2 linked regions of the Homo sapiens genome follow. The protein of the gene in region 2 interacts with the protein of the main gene of each other region in a pairwise test. Each region holds a gene or a part of one and is shown on either strand. Other genes may lie near its edges.

Region 1 (7,004 bases), on a different chromosome or scaffold from region 2:
GGTCCTCAACCTGCGCTGAACGTTAGAATCACCTGGAATGTTTAAAAAATAATCTCAGGCCAGGTGCAGTTGCTCACACCTGTAATCCTGTAAAAAAGTTGCTCACACCTGTAAAAGCACTTCAGGAGGCCAAGGTGGGCGGATCGCTTGAGCTCAGGAGTTTGAGACCAGTCTGGGAAACACGACAAAACCCCATCTCTACAACAAATAACAAAACTTAGCTGGGCATGGGGGTGCATGCCTGCAGTCCCAGCTACTCAGGAGGCTGAGGTGGGAAGATGGCTTGAGGCCAGGAGGCAGAGGTTGCAGTGAGCCACGATCACACACTATTGCACGCCAGGACGACAGACGGAGCCAGCCCCCGTCTGAAAAAAATTAAAATAAAAAGAATCCCAATGCCCAGGCTGTACCCAGAGGACCTCAATCAGCACCTGTGGGTGGGGCCCGGGCATCTGCATTTTCTAAAGCAACCTAGATGAAGCTCATGCACAGCTAGGGTTAAAGTGAGTGCACCAAAGCAGGATCTCCTGCACTGCAGCCACCTGAGCATCTCCAAACACACATCCTGACCCTGGAGGTCAGGCAGGCCTGACACGCTGCATTTCTAACCGTCTCCCAGGGACATTCTTAGTGACTCGAATGTGTAGCCAGGCTTAGGAGGCACAAGCCCAGGACTGTGGTTCTTAATGTGAGGTCCCCAGATCAGCAGCCTCAGCATCGCCTGAAATTTGTAAGAAATATAAATTCTTGGGTGGCATCCCAGGCCCAGAGACTCAGGGGTGGGGCTGGAAATCTGTGTCTTGACACACCTTCCAGGTGGTTCTTGTAACACTCAGGCTTGGGAAGCACTGGCATAGAGCAGCAGACAGAGGCGGGCCCATGTCCTGCCCAACTCAGACTCCACCAGCAGCAGAGAGAGCGACTCTCGGTGTTTTTGGAAAGCATTTGCACCAGCGAGCCTTCCCTGGGTCCAGAACAATACCCGTGACATTCATAGGTAGGAGGGAGATGGCACATGTTGAGAAGGAAAAAAATGTCATGACTAAATCATAGAGATGGGGAAGCTGAGGCTGAGGGAGACATGGCCTCGAACAAATCTGCAGCCTCAGGCTTGGGATAACAACTCTCACCCTACTGCCCTTCCAGACTCAACTCAGGCACTGCCTACCCCCAGAAGCCTCTGCCGCTCCTTCAGGGACACACACACCTGCCCTGCCCCTCCTCAGGTCCCTGCCCTGTGGTGCTCCCATTCAGGACCCCCACTGTGGCATGAGAAACCCTGAATTATTCCATATATCTCGGTTTTGCATCCCTGTTCAGACTCCTTATTCTTCCTGGTAGAACATAGGACATCCTATTTCTTGCATTTTCATTTTTATGTGTTTGTTTCTTTTTTTCCAATCTTCCACGTTACCACAAACTCTGTACTGCGTACATACTCAATGCTCAGCAAATACTTAAGGCTGATTCACTGAGGTTGGACCTGAGCTTTTCTGTCTTTGTGCCTTGAACACGGTCTGAACTTGGCAAATGCTTCTCCAATGACTGAACGAATCAAGCCAAGGAAAAGGGAGCAGTAAAAAGATAGTGAGGAATTAAGCAGACTGGAGGGTACTCATCTTTCCATGGGCCTTTCTTTGCACTTTGCAATGAATGCTACTCATTAAATCGTGGTCCAAAAATGCCTCCCAGTCATGACTGCTGGTATCGCTCCATTATTCACTGCATTCAACACCATCATCTTTCTCATATGAAACACTGGCAGTCTCTTAAGGAGCAATGACAAAGCCAACCACAAAACAAAACTGATCAAGGAATTAGAACAGGCATGTTTTAATGCTAATTGTAAAGGGAGACTGACCTGTGGACATGAGGGTCTCACGGAAAAACTTTCCTTTAACTACGTCCAATTCTAAGGTCTTGCAATGAAACAGGCATACGAAATAATGACGGTAAACAAAATTACCAAATACTACCGCATTTACTTGCACAGGTCATTCATTCCACAAATATTTATTGACCACCACGTGCCAGCACCATTTTAGTCACTGGGCACATGGCAGTGACCAGCATGGACACAAACCGCTTCCCATATGGAACTTACACTCCAGACCAGTGCTGCCTGCCCAATAAAGCTTTCTGCACTGATGGAATGTTCTGGATTTACATTGTCCAATATGGTGGCGACTAGTCCCAGGTGGCTGTTGAGCCCGTGAAATGTGGCTGGTACTGGTTCGTTGCCTGTTAGGAACCCAGCCACACAGCAGGAGGTGAGTGGCGAGTGAGTAAGCAAGCAAGTGAAGCTTCGTCTGTATTTACAGCCGCTCTCCAACGCTTGCATTACTGCCTGAGCTCTGCCTCCTGTGAGATCAGCAGCAGCATTAGATTCTCATAGGAATGCAGAGCCTACTGGAAACTGCTCATGCCAGGGACCTAGTTTGCACACTCCTTATGATAATCTAATGTCCGATGATCTGTCACTATCTCCCATCACCCCCAGATGAGACCGTCTAGTTGTAGGAAAACAAACTCAGGGCTCCCACTGATTCTACATGATGGTGAGTTGTATTATTACTTCACTATATATTACAATGTAATAATAATAGAAATAAAGCACACAATAAATAGAATGCGCCTGAATCATCCCAAAACCATCCCTCAACCCTGGGCGGTAGAAAAATTGTCTTCCATGAAACAGGTCCCTGGTGCCAAAAAGGTTGGGGACCATTGGTCTAGAGGACTCACCCATTGAGGCAGATGTAAAGAGAATGGTGGTGAAACAGTTTCACTGACTGGTACAGACAAATCATTCCTCTGCCTGCCTTCGGCTGTGCACCTATGACCCCTGTTATGCTCCAAGAGAAGTGAACACACATATCCTATGGCAGGAATACACCTTAGACTTCAGAGCAACTTCTATACATCTTACTAAAGTCTCACCCTAGGCCGGGCACAGTGGCTCACACCTGTAATCCCAACACTTTGGGAGGCCGAGGCACGCAGATCGCCTGAGTTCAGTTCAAGACCAGCCTGGCCAACATGGCAAAACACTGTCTCTACTAAAACCCAAAACATTAGCCAGGTGTGGTGGTGTATGCCTGTAATCCCAGCTACTCGGGAGGCTGAGGCATGAGAATGACTTGAGCCCAGGAGGCAGAGGTTGCAATGAGCCAAGATCACTCCACTGCACTCCACCTTGGGCTACAGGGTGAGACTCCATCTCAAAACAGATAAATAAATAAATAAAAACAAAAAAATAAAGTCTCACCCCCAAACCCACCTCCACAAGCTGGGAGCTGCTCTCCCAGTTGACCAGCAGAGGATGTTACCTCAGAAGACACTCACTTCTTCAGGAAGGACTGACAGGGTAGGGGTGAAAACATAGGCAGGCATGCCAAGTGGCAGCCCTTCCTGGAGCATGGAATCCATGCACCGACTGAGTAGGACCAGGCACACTTCTTCTTTTTCTTTTGAGATGGGGTCTGGCTCTGTCAGCAGGCTGGAGTGCAGTGGCACCATCTTGGCTCACTGCAGCCTTGACCTCCGGGGCTCAAGCGATCCTCTCACCTCAGCCTCCTGAGTGGTGGGACCACAGGCGTGCAGCACCACACCTGGCTAATTTTTGTATTTTTTGTAGAGACGGGGGTCTCACAATGTTGCCCAGGCTGGTCTCAAACTCCTGGGCTCAAGTGAACCTCCCATCTCGGCCTCCCAAAGTGTTGGGATCGCAGGCGTGGCCCCCACATCTGGCACAGGCATAGGCACACTTCTGGTGGTTGAGTGTGCTGGAGGGTCCGGGACCAGGCGGTCACTGGCAAGGAGAGATGGTTTGGCTTGAAGAGGATGCCTAGAGCGAAAGTGAGTCCAGCCGTCCACCCAACCCAGGCAGGCAGCCGGGAGCGCTCTCCAAGGTGCTGAAGGGACTGCCTCTCTTCTCTCCTCCTCTCCTCTCCAGACTTGGAAGACAGCACCTTACTCAAGTTCGAGCCAGGACCCCAGTGCAGCGGTGGCTCCATCCACCGCATGGCCTCTCACAGCCATGAAGCTACCAGCGGGGGAAGCGGCCAGTCCACGGAGACACGGACCAATGTGGAAAATTCACACCAACATCACCCTCTCCTCTAGTACTCACAAGTCTTTTTGTCATCTAAGGACACAAAGGGCGTTACATTCAACATTATTAGCTCACAGTTGAGAGCTCGTCATATTTAGAGTTGTGGAGGCTTGGGGAAAACAGGAAGAAAAAGTCTTGGAAAGGAACAGCAGAGGCTCCTGCCCCCACCCCCACACTCCACCCCTTCTTGCTCTCTCCGGCTGGGTGTCCTCAGAAGAGAAGGGGTCAGAGTTCTCTCTCTCCTTCTCTGTGTCAGCTGGGGCTGCTCACTCACTACTCCAGATCGCTGCTGTAGGCGGGTGCCGGTCCTCACTCCCCGGCCAGCTCATCTCAGGATTCCTCACACAAAGCCCATCAAACGGCCTCACGGCCAACGTGGGTAGGGGTGCCCTTCAGCCACATTTGTTTCTCAGCTATAACTGGCAACAAAAAAATAGCTGTTTGCTTCTTCCTTTCTCTTTTCACCTTACGGAGCCTTTCACCACCCGCCCCCCGAAGTAGCGGAAAGAGAATCTCGGAGAAAACGCTTTCGTCTCCAACTGCTCAGGGCTTGCTTCTTGTTTCTGAAATGAGTTTCTGTTGGCATAATCTCCGCACCAATGAACCTGATTCCTTCTAACCTGGGCACTCATTTGAAAAAGAAATTACTTGTTGCATAGTCATAGTCATAGCCAAGCACAAAGCATACGCCCCATGGTAGTTTATTTTGTTGAGATGAGGGATTTTTCTCCCTAAAAGGGCACTAACAGCATAAACGTGTGTTTAAAATGGAAACGAAGCACACCACTGCCTCTGTCATCTGAGCTCCCCGTTTACAGGCCTGGTGGAGATTCAGAGTCCTTGGCCAGTGGAGAGCAAGCAAGGCCGCAAGGGCGCAGTGGCTGCGTTCTGGGGGACGGGGTGGAAAATGTCTCCGGGTGGCAGGTGTTTTGTGCGCGTGTGTGTGCGCAGGCGCCTGGGGGGATCTGAATTCCGACTGTGGGTGTGTGTGATTTGTGTGGGTTGAGGAATCTGGGCCGGTGAACGGGACCTGAGTATGAGGGGGAGAGGCTTGGGCGTGAGATGACTCATATCTTTCAGGGTGTAGGAGGGCTTATTGGAGGGGGTAACTTTCGATTCGAGGGGTTCTGTGTACACAGCACCCGAAGGAAAGATCTATACCTGTGCGGTGCAGCACCGGCATGCATGGTGGGCCTCAGGGGGCCAGGGGTCCTGGGCAGTGTATGGGTTTGCCCGTCTGTGCATGGGCATTCACCTGCAATTCTGGGCCACTGTACGCACAAGAGAACGAGAGATATAAACGAGAGGAAAGAACAGGAGGTGTTTTTGCACAGGGGCATTTAGAGAGCGACGTACCTAGCAAAGGCCCAGGCTCTGGGATGGCTGTCCTGAGTGTGACGCCTGCTGGTTCCTCCCAACCCACACCCACTGGGAGCCTCCACTTCCCAGTGTGGAAAATGAGAATAACAAGAAAATCACCCTCTAGAGGTGTAAGAATTAAGGGCTGTAATTCATTTAACACTTGCCACATGCTTGGCAGACAGTAAGTATCTAATGTTGCTATTTAACATCATTTACATGATCACCAGTCTCCTGTCCAGATGTTGGTTCTAATAATGATCATTGTAAGTGACATGCATTGCCTGGAAACTGTAATGAAAAAACTAACGGTAAATAATAATGTATGCTTACTATATTCCTGGCATAGCCACGCACACCATTCTCAATTAATCCTCACCCACCTTACAGGTATTGTTATCAACCTTTTGTAAAGATGAAGAAACAAGCTCAGAGAGGTTAAGTAATCCAACCAGGGTCACAAAACAGGGCATGTAGGGCAGGGATTCAAGCCCAGGATGCAAGCTGGGGTTGTGACTGGAAGCAAGTGTGCCTGTACCCCACACCCCCAGGCCTCACCATGCAGACGGTAGGAGCTACTCAGCTCAATCAGGGAGTACCCTAAGGGGAGGACACACCTGGAGGAGGAGGAGTTGGCACAGGTGTCCCCAGCTGAAATTCCACACCAATTCCAGCTACATGTGGAATACGCTGGCCGCTGGTGCATCATTCATGAAAATCGCCATTTCCCCAAGTCAGCGCCCAGAGCTGGGCTGAGGTTCCAGAGCTTCGCTGATGGCTGCCCAATATTCCCCCACTTCTTGTGCAAAGGAAAAGTCAGAGTGGAGCTGGGGCCATTAACTCCTTCCTCACTGCGACATGGCTGTCACCACCCACCAGTTGACTGGGAAGGAGGCATGGAGGTCTCTGCCCCATTCTGGCGATCCCCACACCCTGCAGGCTCCTTCCATGGGCTGCCTGGGGACACTCAGTGCCATAATCACCCCCTTCCCAACAGGAAGCTGGGAGCCCTCCAGAAAAGTGGCCCAGATGTCCAGGCCCGAGTCCTCAAGACCAGAAGGGTCAATTCTATTTCCTGTCATGCCATGTTGCCAACCAAAAGGGAGAGCCGGCCATGAAGCTCCCCATCTGCATCCCTGCCTGGCTTTGCTTATGGGAGAGCTAAGAACCGCATACCCCTTGAGAGGATGTTGACAATCTGGGCTTCTTCCGGCAATGTGATGCAAGAACGAGGGGGGTTTGGTCCCAGACAGATCGGGGATCCCTGCAGCCAAAGGCTGGGACTCCTGAATCACAAAGCCCGGGCCTTACTGGCCTCATCTGTAGAATGGACATGATCAGGCAGGACCACAAGGAGGGGAAGGGCTTAGGGGAGCAGGATGCTGAGGGAGCTGTCTGGCTGGAGTGGAGAGCCCAGGGAAGTGGACCTATAGAGAAAAACATCTCTCCCCTTAACCCGTCAGATCCTAAACTACACGGCCAGCCACAGAATCAGATCCTTTCTTCCCTAAAAAGTCACAACATAATCGCC
Region 2 (12,176 bases):
ATTGAGGTGATGGTTTCGTGAGGATACACTTTAAATATGAATTGTATGTATGTATGTATGTGTTATATATATGACTATACAGAATGTAAAAATAACTCCTACAAATGAATAATGAAAAGACAACTAAGTAAAAATCGGTGATTGCTTTCACTTTGCCAGCAAAGAAAAAGAATAAAATTTTTTAAAATTTATTTTTAAAAAATGGATAAAAGACTTGAATGCTTAACAAAAGAATAGGCTGGGTGCGGTGGCTCACGCCTGGAATCCCAACACTTCTTTGGGAGGCCGAGGTGGGCAGATCACTTGAGGTCAGGGGTTCAAGAACAGCCCCGCCAACATGGCGAAACCCCGTCTCTACTAAAAATACAAAAATTAGCCGGATGTGGTAGCGGGTGCCTGTAATCCCAGCTACTCAAGAGGCTGAGGCAGGAGAATCGCTTGAACCCAGGAGGCAGAGGCTGCAGTGAGCTAAGATGGCACCACCGCACTCCAGCCTGGGTGACAAAGTGAAACCTTGTCTCAAAAAAAAAAAAAAAAGAAAAAGAATATATTACATGGCCATTAAGCACATGAAAAGGTGCTCAGCATCATTAGCCATCAGAGAAATGCAAATTAAAACTGCAGTGAGATTTTCTGCTAAAATTCAAAAGACTGATAACCCCATATGTTGATGAGGATGGAGAACAACTAGATTCTTTCACATAGTCAATGGGAGTGTAAAATAGCTCAATAGCTTTGTAAAACTTTGGCAATATCTATTAAAGCTAAATATATGCCTATCATATGACTCAGCAATTCCACTCCTAGGTATTTGCCCAAGAGAAATGAAAAAAAAAAAAAAAGTCCACAAAAAGACTATAGAAGAGTGTTCATAGAGGCTAATTTATAATTGATAAAAAGTAGAAATTACCCAACAGTAGAATGGAGAAATAAATTATAATTTATTTGTACAGTAGAATACTACTCAGCAATAAAAGGAACAAACTACTGATACAAGCAATAAAAACATGTTAACAGAAACTTGACACAAAAGAAACATACTATACGATGACTTTTTGTTTTCTTTTTTCTTTTCTTTTTTTTTCCCCAAGACAGAGTCTTGCTCTGTTGCCCAGCCTGGAGTGCAGTGGCATGATCTCGGCTCACTGCAACCTCCGCCTCCTGGGTTCAAGTGATTCTTCTGCCTCAGCCTCCCGAGTAGCTGGGATTACAGGCGCCCACCACCACACCCAGATAATTTTTGTATTTTTAGTAGAGATGGAGTTTCACCATGTTGGTCAGGCTGGTCTCGAACTCCTGACCTCAGGAGATCCACCTGCCTCGGCCTCCCAAAGTGCTGGGATTACAGGCATAAGCCACCACACCCAGCCTATATGATGACATTTACGTGCAGTCCTAGAACAGAGCTGCTGGGAGTGGCTCGGGGCAGCTCAACAGAACAAGACCTACAGATGGAAGCACCCCCAAATGACAGCAAATATCTACAGGACATAGTTTAGGTACTGTGGTAACATATGTTATCTGGGTAATATGAACATGTATAATGCTACTCAAATTAATTAAATTGTATGGGTTTCTTTTGCTCTTAAAACAACGAACTTTGTTGTTGTTGTTGTTGTTGTTTGAGACGGAGTCTCGCTCTGTTGCCCAGGCTGGAGTGCAGTGGCGCCATCTCAGCTCACTGCAACCTCCACCTGCCGGGTTCAAGTGATTCTCCTGCCTCAGCCTCCCAAGTAGCTGGGACTACAGGCACCTGCCACCACACCTGGCTAATTTTTTGTGTATTTTTGGTAGAGGCGGGGTTTCACCATGTTGGCCAGGCTGGTCTCGAACTCCTGACCTTAAGTGATCTGCCCACTTTGGTCTCCCAAAGTGCTGGGATTACAGGCGTGAGCCACTACGCCTGGCCAACAACCAGCTTTTAATAAGAATTTGCTCAGGGCCGGGTGTGGTGGCTCATGCCTGTAATCCCAGCACTTTGGGAGGCTGAGGTGGGTAGATCACTTGAGGTCAGGAGTTTGAGACCAGCCTGGCCAACATGGTGAAACCCCATCTCTACTAAAAATACAAAAATTAGCTGGGCATGGTGGCACGCACCTGTAGTCCCAGCTACTCAGGGGGAGAGGGGCTGAGGTAGGAGAATCACTTGAACCCGAGTGGCAGAGGCTGCAGTGAGCCAAGATCATACAACTGCACTCCAGCCTGGGCAATAGAGTGAGACTCCGTCTCAAAAAGAATTTGCTCAGGGCTAAGCTTGCCATAGACATTATTCCATTTAATATGACAGCCATGCAAGATAAGGATTATTCTTCTCTTCTCATGAAAGAGGAAACTGAGGTTCAGGACGGTTAAATGATGCCAACCTTTGTTTGTTTTTCACTATACTGTACTATCTCCCACCCCACACACCTAGCCTTTCTGAGATTTCATTGCTTTAACTGTAAACTGAAGAAACTGCATACTATGGTTTGAATATGTCCTCCTAAGTTCACGTGTTGGAGACTTAAACCCCACTGCAGTAGTGTTGAGAGGTGGGCTCTTTAAGAGGTGGTTAGGTCGTGAGGCCTCTGCTCTCATGAAGGAATTAATGTTATTATTGCAAAAGTAGATTTGTAATAAAAGCAGGTTCAGCCCCATCTTGCTCTCTCACACTTCCACCTTCCACCATGGGATGGCGCCGCAGGAAGGCTTTTACTTGATGTGAGCCCCTCAATCCTGGACTTCCCAACCTCCAGAAATGTAAGATATAAATATCTGTTCTTTATAAATTGCCCAGTCTCTAGTATTGTTACAGCAGCACGAAATAGACTAAGACACTGCACATCCTGGTCTTTGAGAGCCCTTGTAGCTTTCATTTTCCACGGTCTGACAGCAGGTGTTGCCAGCCACTGCCTCTAAGAAAAAAATACCCTACTCAGAGCCCCATGTGTCTCTGCCATCTCCTCCCAACCACAGCTGTTTGCACCGCAGTTGAACACTTTGACCTAAACAGAGCTAATCAGATTCATTCTTTCTCCGTGAAAATGGAATAGGCAGTGAATAACTAGTCAGTAAGGTGATGTGAGCACCAACCTGTCTAGCTTTGGGGCTGGAGTTTGTACCAAAGCCATGTGCAGGTCAAAGTTATGGGGGAGCAGGAGCCAAGGGCAAGGTGAAGAAGCTGGTGTATTGTCTTAATCAGTTCAGGCTGCCATAACACACTACCGTAGACTCGGTGGCTTACAAACAACAGAAATTGATTTCTCACAGTTCTGGAGGCTGGCAAATCCAAGAGCAAGGCAGATTCTGCGTCTGCCAAGGGCCCACTTCTTGGTTCATAGACAGTTGTCTTCTCACTGTGTTCTCATGTGGTAGAAAGGGCAAGGGAGCTCTCTGAGGCCTTTTTTTTTTTTTTTTTTTGAGATGGAGTTTCGTTCTTGTTGCCCAAGCCTGGAGTGCAATGACACGATCTCGGCTCACTGCAACCTCCGCCTCCCGGGTTCAAGCGATTCTCCTGCCTCAGCCTCCCGAGTAGCTGGGATTACAGGCATGCGCCACCATGCCCAGGTAATTTTGTATTTTTAATAGAGATGGGGTTTCACCATGTTGCCCATGCTGGTGTGAACTCCTGAGCTCAGGTGATCCACCCGCCTCAGCCTCCCAAAGTGCTGGGATTACAGGCATGAACCACCACACCTGGCCTCTGAGGCCTCTTTTATGAGGGCACTAATTCCATTCATGAGGGCTCCACTCTCAGGACCTAATCCCCTCCTAAAGGCGCCACCTCCTAATACCATCATCTTGGGGAGTTGGGTTCAATATATGAATTGGGTGGGGAATGGGGGTCAGAAACATTCAGACCATAGCATGTGTTCTGGCTCCTGAGTACCTTTTAAGCACTCTTTCTACATTTAGAGAATTTCCAACATCATACGTCCTGCCTCCTCAAGATGGAAGCCGGAAACTCTCTTTCTCAACTCCCTTTACAGTTAGGGCTCAGGCATGTGACATAGCTTTGTCAATCAAACACCCAGTAAGACTTGGATTCAGAAGTAGGCACCAGGCAGAAACCAATGTCTGGCCAGAATGATGGCAGAGGCTTTTAGGCTTGCATTTCTGGCACCCAGTACCCAACATGATTCCCTGGAGCTGCCAGGTATGGCCACCAATGGCAGTGGCCACAGGATTTTTGCTGGAGCTGTGCACTTCCTGGTTTAGGCATTGCTCTGGGCAGTGTGGCCTCTAGTAGGAAGCCTGAGAATACCTAATGTCCCTAAGTAAACTCCTTCTTGCCTTCAATGACCTAGAGAAGATGCTTTGCAACAAGAGTCCTGAGCAATATCCTGAATCAGACAGGCTCCCTTAATCTCTCTAGAACCATCTCCCTCTTCCTGGCCTCTCCTCCTTTTCCTGAAGAACCACGTGATGCAATGGCAGGATCTCAGCTCACTGCAACCTCTGCCTCCCGGGTTCAAGCGATTCTCCTGCCTAGTCTCCCAAGTAGCTGGGACTACTGGCACGCACCATCACGCCCAACTAATTTTTGTATTTTTAGTAGAAACGGGGTTCCACCATGTTGATCAGGCTGGTCTTGAACCGCCTAGTCAAGTGATCCGCTCTCCTCAGCCTCCCAAAGTGCTGGGATTACAGGCATGAGCCACCGCACCCAGCCAGTGACCTCTTCACCTTGGCAGAGAAAACAACTCAAATTCAGGACCATGCAGCACCCCTCAACCAAAAGGAAACTGCTCCCCATTCGCTGACAGGAAATACATAACATCAAATCAAACACTGTTTAGGACATCCCTGGTTTTGCTGAATCCAAATGAAAAAATAGCCTCTCCCAGAATCAGCAGTGATCATTCCAAAAACGAATCTCCTTGGCTATTCAGAGCTGGGTTCCATGGGAATACCTTGGCCAGAAAAACATTTACCACATTAAAAATAAAGATTACAGTTTGTGAAAAGAGAAGGTGAAACTCATTTGGCAGTTGCTTAGCAATTTCTCTTCTTGCACCGGTATTTTGGGGAAGGATCCATCTGGAAATCGGAAAAAGGCTTCAGAGCTTTTTTTTCCCAGTCTGAGGTAGGGAGGGGAAGATGAGAAATAAATGTAGCAGGACTGCCCTGGGCTCATGACAGGTCCCTACTCAGCCAGCCTCTGTCATCACCCCGGGATTCACATGCAAGGCTTTCCAGAACATTCGGTCTTAAAATACTCACCCCGAGGGCACAGCCTCTTGACCTAGTTCTCTCATAAACTCTGAGGACACTCTCATCCCTGTTCTGTCATACTGCTTTAAAAAAAAAAAAAATCCTCAGGCTGGGCGCAGTGACTCATGCCTGTAATCCCAGCACTTTGGGAGGCCGAGGCAGGCAGATCACCTGAGGTCAGGAGTTCGAGACCAGCCTGACCAACACGGTGAAACCCTGTCTCCACTAAAAACACAAAAAATTAGCCGGGCATGGTGGTGGGCGCCTGTAATCCCAGCTACTCAGGAGGCTGAGGCAGGAGAATCACTTGAATCCAGGAGGCGGAGGTTGTAGTGAGCCGAGATTGCAACACTTTACTCCAGCCTGGGCAACAGAGTGAGACTCTGTCTCAAAAGAAAAAAAAAAACAAAAAAACAAAAACCTCAGACAACCTCTGTCTCTCAGTTTCCTCATCTGTAATTTGTAGACAGTTATGGGGGACAGATGTGTCTCGTTGCTTGACACAGCTGTGAAAACACTGGCCCAAGCTAGTTGTGGGCTCTTATGAACCATTCTTGTCACAGGATTAAACCTCACTAAGGCACAAATCCTTCAAAGACCATGTGGAGGCCAGGTGCAGTGGCTCATGCCTGTGATCCCAGCACTTTGGGAAGCCAAGGTGGGAAGATCACTTGAGCCCGGAAGTTCAGGATGAGCCTGGGCAACATGGCAAGACCTCATCTCTACAAAAAATACAAAAATTAGCCAGGCGTGGTGATGCACACCTGTACTCCTAGCTACTTGGAAGGCTGAGGTGGGAGGATTGCTTGAGCCAAGGAGGTCGAGGCTACAGTGAGCTGTGCCTGTGCCACTGCGCTCCAGCCTAGGTGACAGAGTGAGAGCCCATCTTAAAAAAAAAGGATCAGCCGGGCGCAGTGGCTCACACCTGTAATCCCAGCACTTTGGGAGGCTGAGGCAGGTGGATCACAAGGTAAGGAGTTCAAGACCAGCCTGGCCAATATGGTGAACCCCGTCTCTACTGAAAATACAAAAAATTATTCAGGCATGGTGGCATGCACCTATAGTCCCAACTACTCCGGAGGCTGAGGCAGAGGAATTGCTTGAACCCGGGAGGCGGAGGTTGCAGTGAGCTGAGATCACGCCACTGCACTCCAGCCTGAGCGACAGAGTGAGACTCCATCTCAAAAAAAAAAGGGACCATGTGGAAATCTGCCCTAGAATGGAAAGCAAGACACCAGTTGTCAGAATACTGAAGCTATTACTAGGGATAGGCTGTAAAGAGGAGTCTGGAGTCTAGGATGGTTCATTTCCAGGGCTGAACATTAGAATCACCTTGTGGAGCTTTGAAAACTCACAGTGCCCAGGCCATACATCAGATCAATTACATCAGAATCTTCAGGGGTGGGATCAGGCATTGGTATGTTTGAAGCTCCACAGGTGATTACCATATGCAGCCAAAGTCAAAAATCAAAGGTCTAGATGCACCAATTTTATAAAAATGGGATTCATCTGTGTGATATAAAGAGTTACAAAGTGTAATGTAGAGTTAGTATATGACCTAGCAATTCCATGCCTAGGCATATGCCTAAAGGAATTGACAGCAAGGTCTCAAAGAGACAGTTGCACATGCACGTTCACAGCAGCATTATTCACAACAGCCCAAGGTAGAAACAACAAATGTCCATCAGCCAATGGATGGATAAGCAAATGTGGCATAACTATACAACGGAATATTATTTGGCCTTAAAAAGGAATGAAGGCCTGGCACGGTGGCTCACGCCTATAATCCCAACACTTTGAGAGGCCAAGGCAGGCAGATTGCTTGAGTCCAGGGGTTCAAGACCAGCCTTGGCAACATGGTGAAACCCCATCTCTACTAAAAATATAAAAATTAGCTGGGCATGGTGGTGCATGCCTGTAGTCCCAGCTACTCGGGAGGCTGAGGCATGAGAATAGCTTGAACCTGGGAGGCGGAGGTTGCAGTGAGCAGAGATCGTACCACTGCACTCCAGCCTGGGCGACAGAGCAAGACTCTATCTCAAAAAAAAAAAAAAGAAGAAGAAGAAGAAAATAAGATAGTTAATGGTTAATTTTATCTTGTGTGAATTTTCCTTCAGTTTTTTAAAAATCTTACAAGGCGTCCCTGAATCTGGGAAAATAAACACCAGAAATGGCTCCCTGCTTGTGTGTCCCTATCGGGTGTCCTGGCCAGCCCCCGAGCTGCAAGGAGGCAGGGATGGCCAGCCTCAGGCACCCGCATAATGAGGTCTAATGCAGACCATCTGAGCAGTTTCTCTTTCCTAAGCCCTCGGCTTTTCAAATATGTGCTTTCCCACCTTGAGGTTTGCTAGGAGAACAGCTACTTGGTGTTTCCAACCACAGACTGAGATTGGAATGTTTCTTTATTCTCATTGTTTTAAAAGAACTTGAGCCTTATGAAACCAAAAATAGCAAGGGAAAACATGGTCAAATTTCTGGTTTCAGCAAAATCTATTTAGCTACCTTGGCTCTAGAAATCACTTTCCTTCCATTCTTGGCAAATGCTACCAAGTGGCTCCTCGGACCAAAACCCAATGCTGGATCTTCAAAACAAGACTGGCTGGAGGAAACAGAAGTGCGGAGGCGGAGACCATGCTGTGGCCTCTGGCCTCCTGTGACCCCAGAACTTGGTTTTCACCCCATGCAGGTACCTTTTGTGACAGGAAAGAAAGGATTCGAGCTGCAGTTTTGCTGGCTAACGTGAGTCATAAGGGATGGAGAAGTCAATGTTTCCAGAGGGGTGGTGTGCTGGTAGCCTCGCAGGCCTGGTGAAACTTGAAGATGAACATCTGTCCCATCTAAGGAGAAGAACGCAAGGCCCCAGAAAGGCCTCCGGGCCTAAATATAAACAATCACCTCAAACTGGAAACAAACACCCGACAATAGGGGAATGGATAAACTAACCAGTCAATCTGTACAAATGAATATTACTAGGCATTCAAAAGGAAAAACTACTCTAATCCACGTAATAACGTTGATGAATCTCACATACATGTTGCCTGATATACCACACTGCCTGACTGTGGACAGTGAAGCATTTTTTCTGCTTCTGGTACAGCCACTCTCTCCCTCCAGCCTTCATTTTTTCTTTTAAATCAAGTTGATTAAGGTATACTTTACTTACAATAAAATGTACCCATTTTAAGCGTGCAGTTCAGTAAGTATAATAAATGTACACATGCCTGTGTAACCACCACCCCAATCAAGACTTAGAACATTTCTGGCTGGGCACCCAGCACTTTGGGAGGCCGAGGCAGGAGAATTGCTTGAGGTCACGAGTTCAAGACCAGCCAGGGCAACATGGCGAAACCCCATCTCTACAACAAAAAACAAAAATTAGCCAGGCATGGTGGTGCACATTTAGTCCCAGCTACTCGGGAAGCTGAGGTGGGAGGATCCTTTGAGCCCAGGAGGTTGAGGCTGCAGTGAGCCATAATCGCACCACTACACTCCAGCCTGGGCAACAGAGCAAGACCCTGTCTCAGAACAACAACAACAGCAACAGCAAAAAGACTTAAAACATTTCTACCACCCAGAAAGTTTCCTCAGGCTCCTTTGACTTCAGTCCTTTTCCCACCCCTGGCTCCAGGCAACCACTGACCTGCTTTCTGAACTATAGATTAGTTTTGCCTGTTTTAGAACTTTACAGAAATGAAATCAAGGTCGGGTGCAGTGGCTCACGCATGCAATCCCAGCACTTTGGGAGGCCGAGACAGGTGGATCACCTGAGGTCAGGAGTTCGAAAACAGCCTGGCCAACATGACAAAACCCCATGCCTATTAAAAATACAAAAATTAGCAGAGCATGGTGGGGGGCACCTGTAATCCCAGCTACTCAGGAGGCTGAGGCACGAGAATCACGTGAACCCGGGAGGCGGAGGTTGCAGTGAGCCAAGATCACACCACTGCACTCCAGCCTGGACGACAGAGCAAGACTCTGTCTCAAAAGGAAATGAAATCAAATGCTTATTTTGCACAACCTTCTGTAAAGTTCATCCATGTGGTCATGAATATCAGTTGATCATTCCTTTCTATTGCTGAGCAGTATTTCCCTGGATAGAGGTGCCTCAATTTGTTTATTCACTCACCTGTTGATGGACATTTGCATTGCTTCTAGTTTCAGCCTATCGTGACTAAAGCTGTGACATGTGTTTTTGTTTCTCATTTATCTAGGAGTGGGATGGCTGAGTTATATGATAAGTATGTATTTCACTTTCTAAGAAACAGTTCTTCAAAATGGTTGCACCATTATACATTCCCAGCAGCAATGTATGGGAGTTCCAGTTACTCCACATTCTCACCAACATTTGGTGTTGTCAGTGTTTTAAATTGTAGCCATTCTTGGCTGGGCATTGTGGCTCACACCTCTAATCCCAGCACTTTGGGAGGCTGAGGCAGCCTCACTTGAGCCTGTCACTTGAGGCCAGGAGTTTGAGACCAGCCTGGCCAACATGGCAAAACCCCATCTCTACTAAAAATGCAAAAATTATGGCTGGGCGTGGTGGCTCACACCTGTAATCCCAGCACTTTGGGAGGCCGAGGTGGGCAGATCACTTGAGGTCAGGAGTTCAAGACCAGCCTGGCCAACATGGCGAAACCCCCTCTCTACTAAAAATACCCAAAAAAAAAAAAAAAAAAAAAAAAAAATATATATATATATATATTAGCCAGGTGTGGTGGCTCACGCCAGCAATCCCAGCTACTCAGGAGGCTGAGGCATGAGAATCACTTGAACCCAGGAGGCAGAGGTTGCAGTGAGTCGAGATAGTACCACTGCACTTCAGCCTGGTCGACAGAGTGAGACCCTGTCTCAAAAAAAAAAAAAAATGTAGCCATTCTAGCTGTGTGAGTGGCACCTCATTGTGATTTTATTTTCCTATAGACTTCCTTTAAAATGCAAATCTTGGTGGGGCACGGTGGCTCACACCTGTAATCCCAGCACTTTGGAAGGCCAAGGCAGGCAGATCACTTGAGGCCATGAGTTCAAGACCAGCCTGGCCAACATGGTGAAACCCCATCACTACTAAACATACAAAAATTAACCAGGTGTGGTGGTGGCGCATCCCAGCTACTCTGGAGACTGAGGCACGAGAATCACTTGAACCCGGGAGGCAGAGGTTGCAGTGAGCTGAGATCATGCCACTGCACTCCAGCCTGGGCAACAGAGCGAGACCCTGTCTCAAAAGAAACACACACAAAAAACACAAACACACAACCCCTGACTCTCTTTGAAGACTCAGTGTAGAGGAAGTCACATGTGAAAGACCCTGTAAAAGAAGTTAAGGGTTTCAGATATTATGCTGTGAACAGCGGGAAGACCCCAGGGGTTAACATGGGGGGAGGAGGTGGAGGTATTTGCACTTATGCATCTGAGAAGTGGGGCACTTCCAGGAGCCCTGTGTGTCCAGAGGAGAATTTCTCTTGCCCCAAATTTCCCTGCTGCGAGCCACTTCTGATTTCTCCAAGGTGTTGTTTTGTGAGGCTCACTTAGTCATTTTCTTTCTGGCCAAGGAGGTAGAGCACTATCCCTGCCTGCTTCTCGGGAACATATTGTCCGTATTGCTTGTGACTCGCAGTCAGAGAAATATTCTCTGTGCTTGCTAGAGTGTGTTTTAAATTAAAGTGCCAGGGGATGTGGAGATGGTCATTAATTTTAAGTGCATCTATTGTTAGCAAATGATGTCACCGCTGAGCTCTCCAACTTGTCACAAGAAGTCTGGATATATTTCGGGTTTCTGTAGCAGGGACAGTTCCTGTTTTGAAGTGTGCAGGCTATGAATACGGTCTGCTTTCTGTGAGGAACGGTAGAGCTTTTGGTGCACGTTTAAAATGATACTGGCTGTTGGAAGCAAACATTGTGCCCCAATGAGTCAATCAAGTTTCATTTTTTTTTCAAGGTAGGAGGAATGGCAAGAAGTTGACTGTTAGTAATTATATAAATATCAACCTCTGTTCTTTAGAACCTCTTCGAGGTAGGAAGTCATGTCCTATTTATCACAGTGTTCCACGTGCCTTGCTCCAATTTTTTTTATTGCTTATTTATTGAATCTCTTATAAAAGAATTTTCTCAAAGACAAAGAGCATGCTATTATATCCCTCATAAATATCTCTCGAGCGTTTTGAAGGCACACAGTGTATGCCTGTTGGTTGACTGAACAGAGCAAGTTCCGGTTTTTGAAAAGGTGGAATAAAGAGGAAGAAAACTCCATTACTCCTGTTTTAGATGATCTGGTAAAATGTTCTCTATCAGCATCGCATACAGAGGTCTATTACATAGATCATCATATCTCAAATAATTAAATTCACTTGAGGGTCAGAAAAAAACAGATTCTTTGTGTAGAATCATTTACTGAAGAATTTAAAGGATTTTTCCTTGGGCTATCTCAGTCAGATTGGAACAGCTAGAGCCAGGGAAAATATTTCATAACGAGTCTTCTTGGTATATTAAAGTGCACATAACAGAGCGAGAAACTTTGAAAAATAACTTCAATATCCATAATCCTATAATTCCAAGGCATTTTTCATTTTTTCTTTTTCCTTTAGGAAGGTGGTTTTTTAAAGGGACTTTTGTTTTTAACTAAATGAGCTTAAAATAATGTGATTAGAAACCACTGTAGGCTGGGCACGGTGGTTCATGCCTGCAATCCCAGCACTTTGGGAGGCCGAGACAGGCAGATCACCTGAGGTCAGGAGTTCAAGACCAGCCTGGGCAATATGGCGAAACCCCGTCTTTACTAACAATACAAAAAATTAGCTGGGCGTGGTGGCAGGTGCCTATAGTTCCAGCTACTCAGGAGGCTGAGGCACGAGAATCACTTGAACCCGGGAGGCGGAGGTTGCAGTGAGCCAAGATCCATGCCACTGCTCCCCAGCTTGGGCGAGAGTGAGACTCTGTCTCAAAAAAAAAAAAAAAGAAAAGAAAAGAAAAGAAAAAACCACCGTACG

The links.
Region 1: the proteins of NYX (region 2) and JPH3 interact in binary tests that used the Homo sapiens proteins (3 or more experiments, as listed by UniProt).

Annotation. Positions count from the first base shown.
Region 1 is NC_000016.10:87,605,504-87,612,507, reverse strand, and holds part of JPH3 (junctophilin-3), read right to left. Parts: intron 1-7,004. UniProt on the Homo sapiens protein: Junctophilins contribute to the formation of junctional membrane complexes (JMCs) which link the plasma membrane with the endoplasmic or sarcoplasmic reticulum in excitable cells.
Region 2 is NC_000023.11:41,448,531-41,460,706, reverse strand, and holds part of NYX (nyctalopin precursor), read right to left. Parts: intron 1-12,176.